Regions from separate parts of the Homo sapiens genome. Here region 1 is linked to region 2. Evidence: fine-mapped expression QTL. Tissue or cell type: whole blood. Region 2 holds a variant in brackets; the other region holds the start of a gene. All regions are shown on one strand. Distances are between the middles of the regions.

What was found. PIP is the estimated chance that this variant, and not a neighbour inherited with it, causes the effect.
Region 1: SFXN3 starts here. The variant in region 2 is fine-mapped to the expression of SFXN3 in whole blood (INTERVAL, PIP 0.97).

The regions. Positions count from the first base shown.
Region 1 is chr10:101,027,333-101,035,418 of GRCh38, reverse strand. SFXN3 (sideroflexin 3) reads right to left here and starts at 4,185. Exons shown (of 12, transcript NM_030971.6): 1 at 3,885-4,185; 2 at 2,937-3,105; 3 at 564-727. The coding sequence starts at 724. It overlaps PDZD7 (PDZ domain containing 7), which reads left to right and starts at 4,290. Exons shown (of 17, transcript NM_001195263.2): 1 at 4,290-4,346; 2 at 5,035-5,425. The coding sequence starts at 5,200. RefSeq lists an enhancer at 3,663-3,872.
Region 2 is chr10:101,080,548-101,088,649 of GRCh38, reverse strand. No RefSeq gene overlaps it. Among named protein-coding and RNA genes, the nearest start is that of KAZALD1, 23 kb to the right of the region's middle. RefSeq lists silencers at 7,391-7,591, 7,364-7,658. The variant C/T (reference allele first, on the strand shown) is at 4,793.

The DNA.
Region 1 (8,086 bases), 53 kb after region 2:
GGTAACTCTGGACAGAGAACCAGGAACTTCAGCCCCCAGTCTCAGCATAAGGAAGCTCCTTATCTTTGGGAGAGGGCCAAAGTTTCCCAGAAGTGGAGGCTCCTATTTCTATTTCCCTTATAGCCACACAAAGAGGGGTACCCTTCTGTTTCTGCCAAAATGCTGGGTCAGGGATGATGGTGGTTTCCAGTGGGTCAAAAATGGCTGCAAGCATTGCAAGAGTTTTTCCTCCCAAAGATAAGGGGATTTCCCTCCTATCTTCCTGGGACTCCACTTTGAGCACCTCTATCCTTGCAGAGGGTGACCCCGCAATGGGATAGATCCCTGTAGAGGTTTGTGATGCATAGAGCAGCCCCTCCCATAAATATCAATGCCATCTTCTCAACCCAAATGCCCTAAAATCCTTTGGGTTAAAGCTCTGTGATGCCAACAGACGGGGCTAGAGAGTGAGGGGATTGAGGGACAGGGTCACTGTCAAGCTTGAGGAGGCAGGTACAAAACATATTATATTAATCACAGAAAATGAGATCCTGGCACACAGGGTCAGATTGAGGGGTGGTCACCTGTAGTTCTGCACGATGTTCCGAGAAGCTTCCAGCTGTGCCCCGGACAGCAGCAGATTTCGAGGATCAGTAACAGTGAAAAAGTGCCGGGCTCTGCCCAGGAAAGTACTTTGGTCCCAGCGAGGTTCCTGGATGTTGATGTCTAAAGGCAATTCACCCATTTTCTGCAGGACAGAGATAAGGGTCAGAGCGGGAGTCCAAGGGTCCAAGGGCTCCAGCTAGGGGAAATCTTTGGTGCCCCTGCCCTGGCCCCTGAGCTTATCATCAGTCCCTTCAAGAGCTCAAGGTGACTAGATGTAGGGAAAAGAAAGAGAGATCAGACTGTTACTGTGTCTATGTAGAAAGGAAAGACATAAGAGACTCCATTTTGAAAAAGACCTGTACTTTAAACAATTGCTTTGCTGAGATGTTGTTAATTTGTAGCTTTGCCCCAGCCACTTTGCCCCAGCACTTTGACCCAATCTGGAGCTCACAAAAACATGTGTTGTATAAAATCAAGGTTTAAGGGATCTAGGGATGTGCAGGACGTGCCTTGTTAACAAAATGTTTACAAGCAGTATACTTGGTAAAAGTCATTGCCATTCTCTAGTCTCAATAAACCAGGGGCACAATTAACTGCGGAAAGCCACAGGGACTTCTGCCCTTGAAAGCGGGGTATCGTCCAAGGTTTCTTCCCATGCATAGTCTGAAATATGGCCTCGTGGGATGAGAAAGACCTGACCGTCCCCCAGCTTGACACCCATAAAGGGTCTGTGCTGAGGTGGATTAGTAAAAGAGGAAAGCCTCTTGCAGTTGAGATAGAGGAAGGCCACTGTCTCCTGCTTGCCCCTGGGAACTGAATGTCTCCATATAAAACGCGATTGCACATTTGTTCAATTCTGAGATAGGAGAAAAACCGCCCTATGGTGGGAGGTGAGATATGTTTGCAGTAATGCTGCCTTGTTATTCTTTACTCCGCTGAGATGTTTGGGTGGAGAGAAACATAAATCTGGCTTACATGCACATCTAGGCATAGTACCTTCCCTTGAACCTAATTATGACATAGATTCTTTTGCTCACATGTTTTTTGCTGACCTTCTCCTTATTATCAACCTGCTCTACTACTACATTCCTTTTTGCTGAAATAATGAAAATAATAATCAATAAAAACTGAGGGAACTCAGAGACCGGTGCCGGTGCAGATCCTTGGTATGCTGAACGCCGGTCCCCTGGGCCCACTGTTGTTTCTCTATACTTTGTCTCTGTGTCTTATTTCTTTTCTCAGTCTCTTGTCCCACCCTACTAGAAATACCCACAGGTGTGGAGGGGCAGGCCACCCCTTCAACTAGGTAGGTAAGCAAGGGTGTGGGGAGGAGCTGTTTCCTGGGCAATGTCCCAGCCCAGGGACCTGCAGCCACTGGAGGAGGGGGAAGGGAAGACCAGAAACAGGAAAACAGATCTCCTTGTGCTCTATCCTGGTACAGATTTTCATGAGTGAGGATTTACATATATGTGGTTGACACATAAGCAGCAACAAACATCCCAGCCACGTGTGCTACAGATGCACAAGAATATATAATATATATATTACACACCCATGCTCAGGTGAGCTTTAGGCCCCAGCTGCACTGAGACCTGGATACAAACCCCCAAGGCTGTTTTGGAAAATGGCACAAGACATCCCACACTCCAGTCCCTGATTGGAGGAGAGCAAGGCCTTACTGGCCACCCAGGGCTTATCTGTTCCAGATCTCAATCAGGGGACTCTGATGTCAGCCATGTGTGTGCATGTGGGCACGCACAAGTCCTCTCTACAGACCCATTTTTCTCCAACTCACACTGAATGACCCCAGGCTCTCCCTGGTCCCTGGCCAGGCAGGGCTGGCACAGACACTCATCCACCTCTCTCTGGGCCACTTGCCTCCGGATAAGAGCAGGATTCAGTGGCTGCTCCCTCCACCCAGCACAGAGAGGAAAGCCTGGTGCAGCCATCTGGCTGAGTTGGGCAGAATCCTACAGAATGACTAATCCTCTCCAGCCACACTTCCTCCCGCAGAGGCAGAGACGCCCTCCCCTCACACTCACATACCCACACACAAAGACACTATCATGCACACCCTGCCCAGACATACAGACAGAGTGGAGGTGTCCTGTATACACCGGCCTTCAAACACCTTTACAGGCGCACACTGTGCCCATCTGCAGACACTTGAATGTGTGACTACACACAGCCCCACCCTGACATTCCTCCCCCCAACCTCCCTTGTGCCCTGTGGACTTGGACCTCCACAGAGCCGAGGACATTGACTGCACCAGGACAGACAGTTTCAAGGCAGGCCTCCTTCTCTGACCCCCATTCCAGAACCCCGCCCGCCGGGGAGAGCGAGCACTTACGCTTTCCATCGCTCTCTGAAGCTCTCAGAACCGCCTTCCTCTCTGCCTCCGCTGTCGCCGCCGGGCCCTCCCAGCCATCACGCGGGACGTCACGCGTGACGCCGACCAGCAGGGAGGGGCAGGAGCTTCCCGGCCGCGCCCACCCGGTGGGCACGGGGATTGGCAGAACCTGAGGGCGGTGGGTGTCATTCGAGGCGATGCCCCCAGCCTGGGCCACCTGGACCAGGCCCTAAGCTGCTTCCCAGAGCCAATCCCACCTCGGGGATCAGTTCTGGCCCCCTCCCCAGCCAAAGGGAGGAGGGGCTGGAGCCGCGGGCGCTGCTCCCTTGGTTTACAGTCCCCTGGCGGGCCTCAGCAGACCCCCAGCCCTGCAGCAAGCGGTCTAGGTGCCCAGAGAGAAAGCCCCGGGCGCAGGTGGGCGGTGTGGAGGGGCGGTCCTCTGCTGGCGCGCCGGGAGGGACTCGGGTTACCGCCTGGCTTGTTTACTTGATGGCTGCCTTGGCAATGGCCTTTGGCTTGCTTGTCCCCCTGGGCTCCTACCCCAGTATCCACAAGCTCCTCTTGTAGCAGCGCGGCATTCGCATCACTTCACAGCCCCGTTCCTGTCGTGCCTGTGCCTCTTCTATGTCCCCAGCCCTCTCCCTGCTCCCCCTCTGTAACCCCTAGCTCCACTGTGTCCCTGGTCTCCTTACGCTCCCAACCCCTAGCCCTGCACCCCAGACCGTAGCCCCACCCCTGAGATGTGGAGGGGCAGACGACCCCAGGAACCTCGCGGTCTGCATCCGAGCAAGTGCATCAGAAGGATTCTTAGGATTCTTCCGGTCCTGGGACCAGCTGCCCCACCCTGCGACCATTCCAGAACTGGGTAGCCAGAGACGCCTTCTGACAGAGGAGGAGGATGCAAGTGAAGAAGGCACCCCCTCCGCCACGCACATACTCACAACTCACCCAGCCACCACACAGAGCACGCCTGCAGCAAACTCAGGCTCACGTCCCGCTCTGCCCCGTGACGTCCCTCCACGGAGGCCTCAAGGGTGCCCAGGGAGGGGTGGCAATTCCAGGAGCCCCGGTAGCTGGCTCGGCTCAGAGAAGAGGTGGTTCGAGCCGGAGGGGAACAAGCCAGACCCAAGCCCTAAATTTGCGGAATGAGCTAGGGCGTCAGAACCAGAACTGGGGTGGGTAAAGAACTCCGCTGCCCGGGACCAGGTAACGCTCGGCTGTCCCTGGCGCCTAAGGGAGGTGCCGGAATAGAATGACTGGCGGCCCTACCAGCCAATGGGAGCCCGGGGCGGTGCAGGCCAGCCCAATTCCCGCAGCCTCCGCGCAGCGTGGGTGGGGTTTGCCGGCTGCGGCAGTAGCTCTCGCCTGCGGGTGGTTTGACAAGGCTGGCGGCGCCACACCAGCGACCAGGTGAGGCCGACCAGGCACAAAGGGGTGGGGGGCCTGGAGGGCCGAGTTGATGTTGGGGTGCTTCATTCTAGGTCCCAGAGCTTCTCTGAGGGAACTGGCCCTGGGTTTTGCGCGGGATGTCGTGGGACCCCTCTCCAGCAGATCCTCCCCAAAGCTTGGGAGAGGTTCATGCAGCCTCTTTAGACCCGGAGCCGCAGCCTGGAGCCCGCGGGTGTCTGGGGGTCTTCCTGGGCCTCAGCTGTCTAAGGTCCTGAAGCCCTATCCTCGAGGCCCAGCCCGCCCCACGCAGCCCCCGCCCCACCCCGGGCCACCTCCATGCCCGCATATGCATGAGAGAGGTGATGCCATGAGCTGTCCTGACCTCTCTTTTGTCTCACACCTCTCTAAGCCCCAGGGCCCGCAGTAATCCCAACTCCACTCTCAACCTCTACTGAGGACTGGGGACGGGAGTAGATGACTCAGCCCCGAGCAGGAATGAGGGGTGAAAGGTTCCCACCTGCCTTGTATAAAGTCAGCGAGAGTCCAAGATGGTGCCTGGACGGGGCAGTTCTCTGGCCTAGGGTGAGACAGGAGGGGGGCCTAAGGCATGGGAGGGCAGGATGCTTAAACCAGGGGGAGGGGTGGAAGTTTTAGGGGGCAGCAGGGGAAACATTTACACCCCTCCCTCATCCCTGCTCTCCCTGCCCAGGCCTGGAGCTCACACTTCTGAGAGGCATCGCAAGCGAGGGCCTTCACGTTACTGAGACCCCAGCCCCGCACAGAGGCTCATGGAGCTCGAAGCACGCAGGGCTGGCCTCTCCAGAGCTAGCAGATTCCTTCTGGACCTGTAGGGTGCCGCCCTAGCCCAGCCGCCATGGCGCAGGGTTTCGCAGTGGGCTTCGACCCACTGGGCCTAGGAGACCTGAGCTCCGGCTCTCTGAGCTCCCTCTCCTCCCGAGGCCACCTAGGCAGCGACTCAGGCTCCACCGCAACGCGATACCTGCTAAGGAAGCAACAACGGCTGCTGAACGGGCCCCCCCGCGGAATCCGAGCCTCATCGCCCATGGGACGCGTCATCCTCATCAACTCCCCCATCGAAGGTAGGGGCGGGACCCAGCCACTGGCCTGGGTTGGGGAGGGTGGGGGTAGGGGACAATGGGAACTCAGCAGGAGGAGGCAGAGCCAGTATGATTGGGGGAATTCAAGAGATGGGAGTCACAGGGAGGTGGCAGGCCGCCTGGGAACCCATACACTCTTCCTCACCTGCCCTTGGCCTCTCCTCCAGGCCAATCCTGCAGGGGTCCAGGGTCGTAGAAGGGTCAGAGGAGGGAAAGAAGGCCATGGCAGCAGGGACAGGCATGCGTGTGGTATGCTAGCCCCTGGTGGACAAGGCAGGGGATTGAACTGGCCTCTCTCCCATGGGCTCTGCCCTTCTCCAGATCCATTGTGTGTACTTCTGGGGGATGGGGCAGGATAAAGAAGGACATCCTCCATCAACCAGTCCATTGTGTGACAAGCTCTGTGCTGGGCTGCGAGGAGTCAGTGCCCAAGCGGGTAGACAGAATTCAGGGCTTCCGTGCTGAAGGAGGGGAATGAAGGCAGCACAGCAAATGTTCAGAAGAGGAGGGTTGAGGGTGGAGAGGGAGCTCCATCAGGGAAGGGGAGACCTAAGCTTATGTAGTTGCTTAATGCCGCTTCATGGAGCACAATTCTATACCAGCCCTGGGGAGGTGTTACAAGGGACCTAGAGAGAAATCAGGCTCCCTCTTCACCTTCCAGGAATCTACAGTGTAGCAGGACAGAGCAATAAGAACAGCTGGTGGCAGGGGTGAGCTGTCACCAACAAAGGCTGGAAGTGAAAAGCATGGAGCATGGTAGGTGGGCACTTAGGAGCCAGCCTGGCTGTAGTGACAGATGTGAGGTGACTAACAGCTGATGAGCAAGACAGGACCTAGAATGCCAGGTGCGGAGCCAGGCCCCCTGAGTCTGAGCTTTCTGTGAGCAGGACCAGATAAATATCTCCAGCTCCTCTCCTCTTTCTTAGCCAGCAGAGCTCCCCTGGCTGGATCCCAGACTGGACTGTTCAGGCCCTGCTCCTCCCCCTCTGACCCAGCAGGGCATCTCTCTTCCCCTCCCTAGGCCACTGGAGCAGGGTGGGGCATGTTGCTCAGGGAGCAGGCTTTCCTCCACCAGTGCCCTGGCACGCTCACCCCTGTCATACACCAGTCTATGCTTCACCCTCTGGTGAGCACAGGGCACTGCTGAGGGTCACCACGGTCATTCTGGTGAGGGAGCAGAAGTCCCCAGAGGAGTTAGGAGACATTGGGGAAAAGGGAAGCAGGCACCGCATAACTGTCTTTATTAGTCCCATTCTATTAAAAGAACTATGCTATACTCCCTCTGATACACTCTTTCTGTTTCTCTCTCTCTCCCCTTCCCTTTGCCCATGTATGATGCAAGCGCTGTTTATAACGTCTTTTTTTTTTTTTTTAAGAGGGAAAGGGTCTTGCTCTGTCGCTCACCCAAGCTGAAGTGCAGTGGTGTGATCATAGCTCACTGCAGCCTCAAACTTCTGGGCTCAAGTGATCCTCCAGCCTCAGCCTCCTGAGTAGCCAGAACTATAGGCATGCAACACCAAGCCCAGCTAATTTTATTTTATTTTATTTTTTGTAGAGACAGAGTTTCACCATGTTGCCCAGGCTGGTCTTGAACTCCTAGGCTCAAGTGATCTTCCGGCCTCAGCCTCCCAAAGTGCTGGGATTATAGGCATGAGCCACCATGCCTGGCCTATACTGTCCCTCTAAAGATCCTCTTCCAGGGGTTTCATGATTGCTTTCTCCCTCTGCCTCATGCTAGCGCCACTGTGCAGCCAAGGAAGCAGCATCTCCTAGCAGTGAGGGACTGAGGAGTTGCTCTGACCACTTGGCTTCTCCTCTGACTGGACTGGGACCCTCTGAGCTCAGAATTCTCCCCTCTGCCTGAGAACAGGTATCTCCCAAGTCACCGCAGCCTGGAACCCTGCCCCATGTTATTATTTAGATCACTCCCGGGGAGTAAAGTAACTGATAAGGAATAAACGGTGACATTGCCACCTACATCGGCCCCATGAGATCCCACCAGCTCCTTAAATTCAACTGGTCCCAGAGAAAATGCATTACCTTTAATCCAGGAAAGCATTACCCTTAATGCATTTCTCCTCACTCTCCTAGTTTGACCATCCATCCATCCATTTATTCTTTCACTTATTCAAAAAAAATACCTATCAAATACCAAGCACTGTCCAACATATTGGAGATATACTAGAAGAGTATTACGAAGTCCCCACCATGATTGAACTTATGGTCTAGTGAAAAGAGACAGATAAATCACAAATAAGCGAACGACGACAAAGGATGGGAAGAGTCAGAATGTGATCATCTGATGACATGATAGAATGGTGCTTCTCAAACCTCAGATGCCTCAGAATTGCCGGGAAGGCTCATTCAGGGATAGATTGCAGGGCTCAGTCCCAGAGCTTCTGGTCCAGTGGGTCTGTGGTAAAGCGAAGGAATTCCCGTTTTTAGCAAGTTCTCAGATGACACTGACGCTGCTGATCCAGGATTACGCTTTGAGAAGCCCTACAAGAGGTACTCACTGGGAGGAAGGGAGGACACTCCAGGAAGCCTTCTCCAAGAAAGTGGTGTCTGAGCCAGGAGGGGAACGAGGAAGAGGAGCTGACCTTCTAAAGGCCTGGGCAGGAGCACTGCAGGCAGAGGGAACAC
Region 2 (8,102 bases):
TGTCTCACCTTCCTGATTCCAGCTTCCCTGGCCACAGCTGAACGTGTTGGGGCCAAGCTGGCTGACTTAAGGACAATTCTTTTCCCGAGAGTTGAGAGGGATCTAGGGCACTGTCCTTTATCCCAAAGTACCTTTCCAGCCCCACCTCTGGCCTGTCTGAAGGTCTTTTTGGAATTCCTGCCTCGATTTCCCCACCTCTCAAAGAGTGCCATGAGCTGGTCCTTGCTCTACCTTCTGGGAGTGGTCAGAGGAGCAGTGGGTGGGAGCTCCGGGAGAGGAAGCCCTGCCGCAGGAGCCCGTCCCCTCATCCTGTCTCTGTCATCGTTAACAGCCGTAATTATTATTACTTGGAGAGACAGACCAGAGGTGGTCAGGGACATGGTTGGGGTGAATGAAATGAAAAAGTCCTGGGTACGTGCCGTCTCGCCAGGTTAATACTCCTGCCTGTCGGCCTGACAGCTGCAAGATTGATTACCCAGGCCTCCCGCTCTTTATAACTCGATCAGTTGAATTAATCTCTGGCTGTCGGCCCATCTGATGCCTGAATCACAAATTTAATTTGGAGGTGCACAGCTCCTCCCCCATTCCGTCTCCCCCTTCCTCCCAGCTTCCCCCCTTCCTCCCCAGCTCATCCCGTCTTCCTCCTTCCTTTTCCTTTCCCGTTTCCTCCTCTCTCCTGCTCCACAGTTTCCTGTTCCTCTCGCTCTTCCTCTTCTCTGCAGCCTTTCAAGGCCCTCAAGGGGACAGTGGGTGGAGAGGAAGGAGGGAGAGGGGGAGTGGGTTGCCCTGAGTCAGCAGCCCCCTACCCAGACCAGGAGAGGGGTCATGTGCCCCCACCCACCGGGCGAGGTGCCCACCCCAGCATGCTCCACCCCAAACAGAGAAAGAGGCTTGGCTGACACTAAGTAAGACATATTAATGTACTAAAGACTTAATGAAGTTGGGGCGGGGGGGTGAGGGGTGGAAAGTGATTGCTTTATTAGTTTATGGCCGATTAATGGGGACGCCATTACTGTGATGGAGATGGATTGCTGCTGTCAGCAGCCTGGGCCGGGGCGGCCGCCGCTCCTTTCCACGGGTGGTGGGTGCCCCAAACAGAGTCAGAGAGAACTTCATTAGAAGCATCTACAGGATCCCACCTGGGAAGGGCCCAAGGCTAAGCTGGAAGGATGGCGACAGGGACTCAGCTCTAGGCTTTGGAGGGGAATTCCAAGGGGTCAGGGGCTGGGAGCTGACATCAGTTGGGATGGGGCAGTGGGGCTGTGCGGTGGCCTGGCTCTGGACCTGCACATGCGAGGGGTTCCATAGTCACCTGGGGAAAAGGAGGAAGGAAGATAACCACAGAATAACCAGTGCCCACTTGACCTGCCTGAGACACCTTCAGGATGAAGGGAGTGGAGAACAAGGGAAGCGGGCCCCATTCTTCTGCCCTTCCTTATTGGGAGCAGTGCACAAAGACCTGGGCCCACCAGCCCAGAGGAATGGGCAACCCACCAAGCAGCAAGGCTGCCTCTAACACTAGAATCCCCAGCTCCAGGGCCAGGGACTTCCCATACTCTCTAAGTAGATAGAGGTGAAAACCACATTGCCTCAGTTACCTCTGACCACTGCCCCCAGGCAGCCAATGGGAAGCAACGCCAAGGAAGGCGAGGAGTGGACTTCGGGGAGAGCGGACCTGGCAGACACCACCCAGCTCTGGGCTTTCTCCTTCAGGACTGGAGGTCCTGACACTGGGCAAGCTAACCCAGACACACCCCATCCCTTCATGCCTCCTTCTGGGACCCTGTTTTCTATGAAGAGGGAGAGTAAATGCTGGACCCAACACAGCTCTGCTTCAAGGGGCTGCTTTCTATTTGGAAGTCTCTAGGTTCCTCCAGACCTCAGGGTCTTCTATCAACTCCTGTCTCTCAGGCATATATGACATTTTGGCATGGCCATTTTGATGCAAAAACATTAAACTTTCAGGATTTTAAAAAATCAAGTTATGTGGCCAGGCATGGTGGCTCACGCCTGTAATCCCAGCATGTTGGGAGGCTGAGGTGGGAAGATCACTTGAGGTCAGGAGTTCGAGACCAGCCTGGCCAACATGGTGAAACCCTGTCTCTCTACCAAAAACAAACAAAAAAAAGTAGCTGGGTGTGGTGGGTGGGTGCCTGTAATCCTAGCTACTCGGGAAGCTGAGGCATGAGAATTGCTTCAATTAGGGAGATGGAGGTTGCAGTGAGCCAAGATTGCACAACTGCACTCCAGCCTGGGCAACAAAGTGAGAGTCCCTCTCAAAAAACAAAAAAATCAATTGATGTTCAAAATAGACAGTGCCAGCCCCTCCCTAGCGCCTACTCTGTCCTGAGGCCCTCCCAACCCAAACCCCATTTTGAGAGGCATCAGGGATGAAGATGGATTCCATATGGGCTCAGAACCACAGCCTGTTGACCAAAGTACATAGTACCACAAACACATTTTGATGCAAGTTAGGCAAAACAATAGTGGCAAAATGATAGAGCCAAAATTCCCTCTTTGGCCTCTTTGCCTGTTCCTCACCATGTGTGTAATTCTCGCTGAGTGTGTGTGCCCCACTTACAATGAGTTACTGTACATCCAAACGCCAGTCCATGAGTCATGGCTAGCACATGGTATCATGTGTCTGCATGCCCTACAAGGGCCTGTATCTGTGTATGCTTGGGTGTCCGTCCTCATCAAGGTGCGGGCACTCCCTGCTGGGCACCGTGGTCACCACTCTTTGCCTGCTCAGGCCAAGGACCAGCAATCGGTTTAGGGGTCATCACCCAGGCACACCCCCCAAAGGAAGAGCTACCTGCTCACACTAACTGGGAAATAAATACCCTGTTTCTGAGAGTAATTTAATTATTGGCTCCTGTGGACTAGTGGGTAATTAAATTCCGTAGCTCCCAAAGTAATTAATTGCTATGCAAATAGTAATGCCCTCTGCTTTGGAGAGAAGGATCCCGGCCTGAGTTTGCCCTGCAATTAGAAGCTAATAATTACCCTGTCAGTTCCCAGCTTTTGCCGGGTAATTACCTGCTGAAGCCCCACTGGTCACTGAGGGCTATTCCCATCAACTGCCACTGTAGCTCTGGCTCTGGTGGCCCCAAAAAGCCAGAGCAGGGGACCCCCAAGAGTGCTGGTTAATCCTGAGGTTCTCCCCATCCTACACCATGTCCACAAGCCCCAGGAGTCCCATAGAGACACACTTACTTCTGACCATGGGAAACTCAGGATGGGATCTCCTTAGCCTCCCTTTGCTAAGGAAGAGGTGCCCCATCTTCTCAATGGCTAGAATCCTGTCAGATAGGTTCACCCAGGCTGGAGTGCAGTGAGCCGAGATCAAGCCACTGCACTCCACCTCCCAGGTGGAGTTCAAGCCACTTGAACCTCCACCTCCCAGGTTCAAGCAATTCTCCTGCCTCAGCCTTCCGAGTAGCTGAGATTACAGATGTGCACTACCACACCTGGTTAATTTTTGTATTTTTAGTAGAGACAAGGTTTTGCCATGTTGATCAGGCTGGTCTCAAACTCCTGGCCTCATGTGATCTGCCCTCCTCAGCCTCCCAAAACAAAGCAGGCATTTTGCAGCTTCCGCACACCTTCTCCCAGGTACTCAATAAACACTAATCTAGGTCCTGCTGTAAAGGGGCTTTGAGGATGTAATCAAAGTCCCTAATCAGTTGGCTTTAAGTGAGGGAGGTTATCCTCCATGGGCCTGACCTAGTCAGATGAGCCTGTAAAGGGTCAGGGCTCTCCCTGATGAAGGATGCTCCAAACAGCAGCTTGGTGTAGAATTGTTCTCCCTTTGCTAGGTTCTCCCATCCCGACTGCCTGTGGACAGCAGCTTTGCTAGCACCCAGGGGGTTCCAGCTTGTTCCTGATCTTTCCTTCCTGACTGCTTGCCCTACAGATATCAGACTTACTTAGCCAACCCACACAATTGCATCAACCAGTTCCTTGAAATAAAATTTGGTATGTATTTAATAAAATTTATTTTATTATTTTTAGAGACAGGGTCTTGCTCTGTCACCCAGGCTGGAGTGCAGTGGTGCAATCACAGCTCACTGCAGCCTCAAACTCTCAGGCTTAAGCAGTCCTCCCACCTCAGCCTCTTGAGTAGCTGAGAGGTGCACACCACTGCGCACCACTGCAGGTGCACAGAGGTGCACACCACTGCAGCAAGCTAATTTTTATTTTTTATTTTTTGGTAGAGATAGGGTCTTGTTATGTTGTCCAGGATAGTCTCAAACTCCTGGCTTCAAGCAGTCCTCCCACCTCTGCCTCACAAAGCACTGGGAATACAGGCATGAGCTAACATGTTTGGCTCCCCCAAATTTTTTTTAATGAGCCAGGTGTGGTGACACATGTCCGAAGTCCTAACTACCTGGGAGGCTGAGATGGGAGGATCACTTGAGCCCAGAAGTTCAAGGCTGCAGTGAGCTATGGTTACACCACCGCACTCCAGCCTGGGTGACAGAGCAAGACTCTCTGTCTAAAAAACAAAACAGGACGGGCATGGTGGCTCATGCCTGTAGTTCCAGCACTTTGGGAGGCTGAGGCAGGCCGATAGCTTGAGTTCAAGAGTTCGAGACCAGCCTGGCCAACATGGTCAAACCCTGTCTCTAATAAAAATACAAAAATTAGCCAGGTGTGGTGGCGCATGCCTGTAGTCCCAGCTACTTGGAAGGCTGAGGCAGGAGAATCACTTGAACCCAGGAAGCGGAGGTTGCAATGAGCCGAGATCACGCCACTGCACTCCAGCCTGGATGACAGAGGGAGACTCCAT[C/T]TCAATAAAATAAAATAAAATAAAAAAACAAAACAAAACAAAAAAAGTGGCTCACCAAAGATTCCCTAGCTAGTAAGTGGGAAAACAAGGTTTCTAGCCAGGCTCCCAAGTAGATTATAACTGCCCATTCAGTGTCAGGACCTGGCTCCAGGTCCCAAGTTCAAGGTAGGTTATACCTGTGCCCAATGAAAAGGTGCTTGTGGATCTCCCCAGCCATCTCATAACTCTCAAGCATCACTGTGGCTAAGCTGAGTTTTTGTTTCTGACCTGGATCTTGTCCCCTCTATCAGCCTCCTGGCCCTTTGTTCTGGGTTCTTATTGCTGTCCCTGATTCCTTCCTAAGGAGATGGGCCTGAGAGTGGCAGAGCCTATGTGCCTTCTAGGCTTTGGTCGCTCCCTTTGAGAAACAGCCAGACCCCACCCTCCAGGTCAGAAGTCTTCCAACTGAATCCCTGTGGAATATTGTCCTGATGTAGTCTCAGAGCCGAGGGACTCCCTAGGAAGCCGGATGCTGGGCAGGCTGTGGGTGGAGGGGTAGGGCTCATGGAGACTGACTGAAGGACTCTGAGCCAAGAATGGGTTTCAGGAGTCTGGGAAAGAAGTCTAGGGAGCACAGGGGCTCAGTGAGGGCAAAAATCCTCCCCAGCCCCTCAACTGGTACCTCACAGTTATCTTTCGGGTCTCAGCTGCAGGAAGCTCTCCCTCACCCACATGGGAGGGTAGGCCACATGCTCCGTGTTTCTTCTCTCCCATTCTCCGTCTTAGCCCAGGTGAGCAAAAGGGCAGAAGACCTAGGCAGAGGAAATAGACCTCACAGGTGACCAGCTCTCCTCAGTCCAGAGGACATGTCTAGGGCTGAAGCCTAGAAACGGGATGGCAGGAAGCACTATGGGCTTTGAGGCCAAAGTCTAGCCCTGTGAGTGCCTTGCCTTTGGTTCAGACACCCTAGGATTAGTGAACCATCCAAGGCAAGACTTCCGCACCACCACCAGGGAGGACAAGAGAAAAATGGGAGGCAGAGGATAGCCCTGGGAAAGCCAGAGGTGATCAACAAACAAGCTTCCTACGCTTCATATAGGGATGTGGGCAGAAACTACACACAGGGAAATACTCAAGCCTCTCCATACGAGATGGTTAAGGTCACTTGATATTGAGGGTCTCATCTATTTGGGAAAATCCAACCTGGAAGAGATCCCTTACCTCCACCGCCCAGGTTCACCTGACCTAGGCTCCCATGGCACAAGAAAAGTAATAGCGTCCCATGGTCTTGAGTCTGTGCCCTGACTTCTATTTCCAGCTTCTGCTCCAATTTAACTGCAGGAACTGGTGGGAATCATACTCCCACCTGTGCCTTTGTGAGGAGGTAATTTCTTGCTAGAGATTTTAGGACAAAAATGTCTAATCAGCCGGGCATGGTGGCTCACACTTGTAATCCCAGCACTTTGGGAGGCTGAGGTGGGTGGATCACTTGAGGTCAGGAGTTTGAGACCAGCCTGGCCAACATGGTGAAACCCCATCTCTACTAAAAATACAAAAAGTTGCCGGGCATAGTGGTAGGTGCCTGTAATCCCAGCTACTTAGGAGGCTGAGGCAGAAGAATCTCTTGAACCCAGGAGGCGGAGGTTGCAGTGAACAGAGATTGCACCACTGCACTCCGGTCTGGGTAACAGAGTAAGACTCTATCTCAAAAAAAAAAAAAAAAAAAAAAAGAAAGAAAAGTCTAATCATTTATAAGTCAGCAGTCTTCAGAGAACTCAGAGAGCACTCCGGAGGGTGGAAGCCACGTCTCCCCCATTGGACTAGAGGCTCCCTAAAAGGAGGAGCCTCCATGTCCCCTTTAAATAGGGACTCCCAAATGCAGTTGTATTTCTCTCTTATCTTCCCCCTCAGTGCCTTGCCTTGAGGTCTGCAAAACAGTGATTCTCAAAACAGAGTCCCTGTGAAGAAGCCCGGTAGGATCAGGGGTCTCAGAGCATGGCCAGGGCTGCCAGACACCCTCCACACAATATGGCCCCCTGCATAGGCTGGTGCAGTTGCTACTCCACTGACAGCTCTTTAGAATCCATTCAGAGTTTTGGCCCTGCTGTAATCTCTGGGTGATGAATATTTCCCCTAATGAACTGACAGGAATTGAATTAGGCTGGAATGCTTGTGTGCTTAGACTGTAGCTGATTAAACCCCCATCTGTGCAAGGCCTGCCTGTGAACAGCTTGTTACATACAATTTTTTAAAGGAGGGAAAAATGGTGTTGGTATTCAAGTTCTGCAAAGGAACAGGAGAGAAAGTGGAAGCATAATGTCAATCCAGGCTTTTAGCAGGATCTGGTTGCTTTTAATCTGATCAGGCCAGTACTCCCACCTTAGGGCACCTCCACTTTCCAGCCAACTTATCTCATGAGGAGGGACTTAGGCCAGGGGTCTTCAGGGCACAGGTACCTGCACCCTTCCCCAGGAGTCCTGCCCAGATCTCCTCTGAGCCCACAACTGTCTACCTCTTGCAAGGAGCATTTATTAAACAGGGAGTTGCTTTGGGGAAAGGTAGGAGAAGGAGAAGGTGTGAGAGCGAAGCCAGGCCTGTGGATTCAGTTCCCATCAGATGCAGCTCTAGCTCTTTGTTCTTCCTCCAAAATCATCTGGTCACCTTCATGGGAAATTGCAGGGAGTTTGGGGTAGGCACTCCGTCTGGGCTATTCGTGGGCCCTTTGTCAGTCAGGACCAAGGACAGCACCCCCACTATTTCAAGGATCACCAAACTTCCAGGTCCCTCCGCTTTTCCCTCTTCTTCCCTGCTAAACATTCCTCATTCTTCAAAACACCTTTTCCTTTTCCTTCTTGTTCCCTTCCTCTTATTCCTCCCTCTTCCTTCTCATTCCTTGTCCTTAATCCCAGGGACAGGGCCTGGCTTCTGATTCTTCACCACCAGGTACTTCACCCCAGGAATCCCTCAAGAAAAGTTATTTAGGCTGGGCACAGTGGTTCACGTCTGTAATCCCAGCACTTTGGGAGGCCAAGATGGGTGGATCGCTTGATCCCAGGAGGGAGAGACCAGCCTGGGCAACATGGTGAAACCCCATCTCTACAAAAAATTAGCTGGGCATGATGGTGTGTGCTGGTGGTCTCAGCTACACAGGAGGCTGAGGTGGGTGGATCACCTGAGCCTGGGAAGTCGGGGCTGAAGTTAGCCATGATCGTGCCACTGCACTCCATCCTGGGTGACAGAGTGAGACCTTGTCTCAAAAAAAGAAAAGTTATTTAAGCACCCCAAGAAGCCTATCCCACCAAACCTCTGTTAAAAGCCTTATTCCCACGAC